2 linked regions of the Homo sapiens genome follow. The protein of the gene in region 2 interacts with the protein of the main gene of each other region in a biochemical or structural test. Each region holds a gene or a part of one and is shown on either strand. Other genes may lie near its edges.

What was found. The genes of interacting proteins can lie anywhere in the genome.
Region 1: the proteins of NACA2 (region 2) and NACA are reported together in a solved structure, tested with the Homo sapiens proteins (one study listed by BioGRID).

The regions. Positions count from the first base shown.
Region 1 is NC_000012.12:56,711,798-56,715,327, forward strand, and holds the end of NACA (nascent polypeptide-associated complex subunit alpha), read right to left. Parts: intron 2,891-3,530; coding exon 2,805-2,890; intron 2,643-2,804; coding exon 2,565-2,642; intron 1,887-2,564; coding exon 1,740-1,886; intron 1,394-1,739; coding exon 1,265-1,393; intron 1,112-1,264; coding exon 989-1,111; coding exon of another isoform or gene 962-988; exon of another isoform or gene 756-961; coding exon 741-755; 3' UTR 630-740; downstream 1-629. UniProt on the Homo sapiens protein: Cardiac- and muscle-specific transcription factor. May act to regulate the expression of genes involved in the development of myotubes.
Region 2 is NC_000017.11:61,589,868-61,592,823, forward strand, and holds NACA2 (nascent polypeptide-associated complex subunit alpha-2), read right to left. Parts: upstream 1,353-2,956; 5' UTR 1,314-1,352; coding exon 666-1,313; 3' UTR 554-665; downstream 1-553. UniProt on the Homo sapiens protein: Prevents inappropriate targeting of non-secretory polypeptides to the endoplasmic reticulum (ER).

The sequences.
Region 1 (3,530 bases), on a different chromosome or scaffold from region 2:
CCTGGGCTAAAGAGATCCACCTGCCTTGGCCTCCCAAAGTGTTGGGATTACAGGTGTGAGCCGTCGCGCCTGGTCAGAAATGAGAAACTTTATAGTCAAGTTGTATTTCCTTAAGTTAAGAAGGTCCTAACAGCCTAGTATAGTAACTTTTTTTTTTTTTTTTTTTTTTTTGAGATGGAGTCTTGCTCTGTCTGTCGCCCAGGCTGGAGTGCAGTGGCGTGATCTGGGCTCACTGCAAGCTCTGCCTCCCAGGTTCACACCATTCTCCTGCCTCAGCCTCCCAAGCAGCTGGGACTACAGGTGCCCGCCACCACGCCCGGCTAATTTTTTGTATTTTTAGTGGAGACGGGGTTTCAACGTGTTAGCCAGGATGGTCTCAATCTCCTGACCTCGTGATCTGCCCCCTCCTTGGCCTCCCAAAGTGCCAGGATTACAGGCGTGAGCCACCACGCCTGGCCAGTAACTTCTTAAAAGAGGTATAAAGTCTGAGATTCTAAGTGGGAAATCTGTGGCACTAAACCTTATCAAATGAGGGAGGCCTTAGGAGTAATTAATAAATTACTAGAACCTTTTTAAGTTTTTTTTTTTTTTGGTGTGGGGGGGTGGCGGGGAAGAGACCAGTCACCGACTGAATTCATCCAACAAGAAGCCATAACTTTATTTATGATAGAAACAGTACAAATTTCAAACCAAGCTGCAGTTACTCCTTTGAGACACCAAAAAAAGTTGCTTCCATATGGTTACATTGTTAATTCCTGTAACAGAGAAAAGATAATTAGCGGTTCTTATAGGCAAATCAGGAGAATTCAGGTCACTAAAACTCTTACAGGCAAATCAGGAGAATTTAGGCCACTAAAACCTATACGGCAACTCAGAAGAGGCTCTGGAATGAGGTTCCTTAATTGGCTGATATTTAGCAAGACAAAATAAAGTCACTCATAATTGGTCAGGGCAGAGGGAGTCAAGGAACAAAGGCTTGAACACTTACCATAATCGCATTTACAATATCATTACTGTTGTTCTTCAGGGCTCGGACTGCCTTTGCTCTCGACACATTTGCTTGTGACATGACCAATTCAATGTCCTTAACTTCTACACCTGTTTCATCGACCTGAGAGATGAGAGGGAAAAAGCAGTAAATTAAAGGCAAGAACAATTTCAGCAGTTCTTTGGAGTCTCCTGAATCTAGTTTTTAATATAGCTCACCAACACGAACACAATGCTATACGGCGAGAGTTAAATTATGAAAGATTTCCTAGTATACCTCTTCCTCTTCACTCTCCTCTTGTACAGTTGGAGTCTGTGTGTTTTCTTGAATGTTTGAGACAGCTTCACCTTGAACTTTGAATTTCTCAGCAGCTGCTAGTTGTGCTTGCTGGGATAAATCTTCGATCTACAGGGTAGAAAATACAGATCCATGTGAGTAGATTAGCAGTCTTTGAAAAATAAATCATATAGTTTCACAACTCTCTGTAAACCCATTCAGGTAACTTATTGTACAGCTTTAAACTGCTTGCCCTCACAGTAGAAAGAGTAGTTGTTTAGGTTTAGAGCAGTGGTTCTCAACTAGGGGGTAGTTAGGTCTCCCAGGAGATATATGGCAATGGAGTTTTTGGGTAATCAAAACTGGATGTAATGGATAGCCCTTCCATAACAGAGAACTATCTGACGCAAAATGTCAGCAGTGCTGAGGTTGAGAAACCCTGGTCTGGAACAATGCCCAAGAAAAGTTTACTCACCTTGGCTTCCCCAAAAACTATGTAAGTATCTGAAGCAGGGCTCTTGTAGACATCTGGTTTTGTGATGACAAAGAGGATATTCTTAGATTTCCGGATAGTGACTCTAGTAACTCCTGTAACCTGCCGAAGACCCAGTTTGGACATAGCCTAAAGAAGAGAAAATAGTATCAGGTTTTCAACCTCTTTAGAAGCAGCCTAAAGAAGCAAGGAACATAATACAACATCCAAAGCAAAGCCTTTCCCCAGGCTGAGAAAAGTTCATACAAGAATAGAGAATGGGTTTTCTGCCGTAGTAACTTCTGTTACTTTATTTTTTATTTTTTGGAGGCAGGTCTTGCTCTGTCGCCCAGGCTGGAGTGCAGTGGTGCAATCTCGGCTCAATGTAATGTCCGTCTCCCAGGTTCAAGCAATTGCCGTGCCTCAGCCACCTTAGTAGCTGGGATTACAGGAGCGTTACCACCATGCCCTGCTATATATTTTTGGTATTTTTAGTAGAGATGGGGTTTCGCCATGTTGGCCAGGCTGGTCTTGAACTCCTGACCTCAAGTGATCCATCTGCCTTGGCCTTCCAGTGTGCTGGGATAACAGGTGTGAGCCACCAACCTAGCTACTTCTGTTACTTTCAACGGGATTCTACCACTACTAAGAATTGGGTTCAGTGTATACTGCTTGGGTGACAGGTGCACCAAAATCTCAAAAATCACCACTAGAGAACTTACTTGTATAACCAAAATACCACCTGTTCCCCAAAAACCTATGGAAATAAACAGTTCCACTCTGTATAAAGGTGCTTCATAAGATCCTGAAATCCTTTTCAAATCTTACCTTCCGTGCCTTCTTTTCACTCCGACTCTGTTTTGCTTTACTGACTGGTTCTTCATCAATTTCAGCTGCTGCCGCCAGCTAAGAAGATAAAACAGCTATTAGTTAACCAGAATCTAAGATCTGGATAGCACAATCTCCTTGTGGGTTTTCCTTTATGAAGGTTCACAGTTCCAAATACAAAAGTTGCCCTGATCAACCCTGCTTCTTTGACCCAATACCAGTTAGTAAGAGAATACCCACCTGGGCTTGTTGTGTGGTTGCCTGGGTGGAATCCTGTTCTTCAAGCTCTGGTACTGATTCATCACTGTCAGATTCTGTTCCAGACCCTAAGATGAGAAACAACTTTTACTGCTTTATAGTAGAAATTATAAGAGAAGGTACTTCACCACAGCCTGCCCTGGACTAGAGGTGAATGCCTCATGCTAGACCTAAGAATGTTAAATGTAAACCAACTGGCTTGTGTGAAGTCAGCTTGATAGCCCCTAACTTAGTCACTAACTAGCGGGTACACATCTAGTAAAGACCCAGCCCTAACCCCAGAAATGAGGACTAATCACTAGAAATAGCTGAGCAGTTTAATATACTGTAACTGCTTTCTTTCCCTCAAGGTCTTTGTTTCTTGGCACAGGCAAATAATGACCCATATGACTCTAAAATTTTACCCAATAGTCCAATTATCCCTGTAAAGTTCTGTCAGAAGGTGCCCCCAGATACACTTAAGTGAAAAAACCAAAATCACACCGTGGAGGCACAACAGGTTGGGTGGTTTTCCCCTCAACTTTTAAACTGGGTTGGAGGAAGTCAAAAGCAGACACGTACACATATTCAGCCTCATTTTCAAACCATTCACCCCAGCAATGTGATCTAATCAATATAATTAGAAGATTCTCAATGATGATGACCTATATCTCTAGTTTTTCCAAACATAATTCACATAAATTTCTTTCAATTCAAAGGCCAAGCATC
Region 2 (2,956 bases):
TAGAGACACAGAGAGGTGCATGAATCTGAGAAATGCTCAGGAGGCAGTAGCAATAGGACTTGAAGATTTACTGGGTGCCAGAGATTTTAAAGGATAGGGAAGAGCTAAGGATGAGTATCGAGTAGCTGGTTTGGGAATGAAGGGTATGATGGTGACTTTCACTGAGCTGGGGACACTGGAGAAGGAGCTCTAGTCATCCGGTAGAGGAGAGATGATGAGTATACTTCTGGCTATCCTGTGATTGAGGTGCCGGGAGAGTATCCAAGGAAAGACGGTAAGTAGGTGGCTGGATATCCAAATCTGTGTCTTAGGACAAAGATGGGACTGAAACTATTTGAGGATCATCAGCAAGAGAAATGAATCTGATCACCTATGTTGAGTGTGCAGAGTGAAAAGAACACAAGGCCTTGGAAAGACCCCTGAGATGCACTAATATTTAAGAACTGGGTAGAAGAAAAGATGACCACAAAGGAAACTGAAGAATAAGCCAGGGAAGAAGGTAGATCCGGAGAGTACGGCACTTGGAGACCAAAAAAAGAGAGCATTTCTTTTCTTTTCTTTTTCCAGCAAGAAGTCATAACTTTATTTATGATAGAAACAGTACAAATTTCAAACCAAGCTGCAGTTACTCCTTTGAGACACCAAAAAAAGTTGCTTTCAGATGGTTACACTGTTAATTCCATAATCGCATTTACAATATCATTACTGTTGTTCTTCAGAGCTCGGACTGCCTTTGCTCTCGACACATTTGCTTGTGACATGACCAATTTCACGTCTTTAACTTCTACACCTGTTTCATCGACCTCTTCCTCTTCACTCTCCTCTTGTACAGTTGGAGTCTGTGTGTTTTCTTGAATGTTTCCGACAGCTTCACCTTGAACTCTGAATTTCTCCGCAGCTGCTAGTTGTGCTTGCTGAGATAAATCTTGGATCTTGGCTTCCCCAAAAACTATGTAGGCATCCGAAGCAGGGCTCTTGTAGACGTCCAGTTTTGTGATGACAAAGAGGATATTCTTAGATTTCCAGATAGTGACTCTAGTAACTCCTGTAACCTGTAGAAGACCCAGTTTGGACATAGCCTTCCGTGCCCTCTTTTCACTCCGACTCTGTTTTGCTTTACCGACTGGTTCTTCATCAATTTCAGCTGCTGCCACCAGCCAGGCTTTTTGTGTGGTGGTCTGGGTGGAATCCTGTTCTTCAATCCCTGGTACTGATTCACCACTATCAGATGCTGTTCCAGACCCTGTCTCAGCCTGGGACTGCGGCAACTCCTGCTCTGTAGCAGGGACGGTTTCTGTGGCTTCGCCCGGCATTTTGTGCAGGGAACGCGGAAGCAAGATGGCGGCAGAAAGAGCGCGAGCGAGAGCGTGACCCACGCTTGTTGCAGCGGGAAGCAAAAAGAGAGCATTTAAAAAGACATTTGTCAGCAGTGCTACACTGCCATGAGGTCAAGTTGGAATGGAAAAGGATCTATTGGATTTAGAGACTGTAAGTTACGCGGTCTGAGTGGTGCGGTGTGAGTGGCACTTGGGAATTGGTTAATGGTCAGTTCCTTGAAAAAATGACTAAATTGGGGAATCATTTTTTAAAATTTACATTATTTAACATGCTGTTTTAACTGAAAACATATCACTGTACTTTTATTTGCCAATCTTTTGATAGGAGCCGTAAACCTTTCTTTGAGTATTATCTGTTTATTGGAATTCAGCCTCGGTTTTCTCACATAAATCATATCTATAAAGGTATTGTCTATCATTCCCTGTTTTAGTTTATTTAAAATAGACCAAGAACTCAAAGGTGCTCATGAAGCAATCTGAACGCAGAATCCTAGATATGTATGGTTTCCCTCGATCTTTTCTTGCTCCCCCAATGAATGGAAAATTGTAAATGTTTCCAAACCATTCAATTTAATTTGCACAGAAACAACTATTTTATTTTTTCTATTTATATTTCATATAACAGTTATATAATGAGTTTACGTAATAATCAGTTAAATTACATAATTATAGTAATAAGAATACCCAGCATAAATAGGTTAAATAAACACAACTGATTCTTGGTAAGCCTATAACTGTATAGAGAAAACAAAAAATCCATAGAAAAGAAAACCAAAAAACAAAAATCCGCGTATGTACTAGGCAGTAGCACGTTAGCTATAGAGTGTGCCGTTGGCTTCCACCAATATGTTTCACGAAGGCAACAGAGAGTATCAGTCAATTTGCATTATGTTGGCTAAATATACGTTAAGAGAGTTTTTGCTTTAGTTACAGGGGATGACTCAGAAGGCAGTTAGATTGCAGTGGGCTGAGAAGTAGGAATTGAAGAAATGGAAAGATTGGATTAGATCAGAGTACTCTTATAAGAAGTTTAACTGTGCGGGAGGAGACAGTGCAGTAGCTGAAGACATAATTATAGTTGGCGGATAGGTAAACACATATTCTTCCTAAGAAGAGACCTGAGCATGTTTAAATTCTAAAAGGAGTAGTTAAATACAAATGAAAGAGGGAAGTTGATCAGTCAAGGTTCTGAGGAGCCAGGAATGAAATCCATGGCACAAGTAGAACGACTAATCTTGAATAGCAGGAAAGGCATCCTTTTCATTGTAATAGGAGGAAAGAAGAAAAATATGGATTTGGGTGCAAGCAGATTTTTAGGTTTGGTAGCACGATGTCAAAGGAGTTCCCATCTGGTAACATTTATTTTTTTTTTTTTCTAAGAGGCTAGAGGAGCTGTCTGCTGAGAGTGAGGGGAAGGCAAGAGAGTTAAAGGTTTATGTATGATGGAAAAGATTTGGAATAGGTGCTGCATAGAAGGAAGAAAATGATCACTAAAGAAGCACAATAGGGTAGTAATTCAGTATTGAGGTCCTAGCTGAGATAGGCAAATACTGTGCTATATGCTGGGTTGAGCAGGTTAAATGGGAGGAACATGCAAAGATAGGTAAGACACAGTTTCT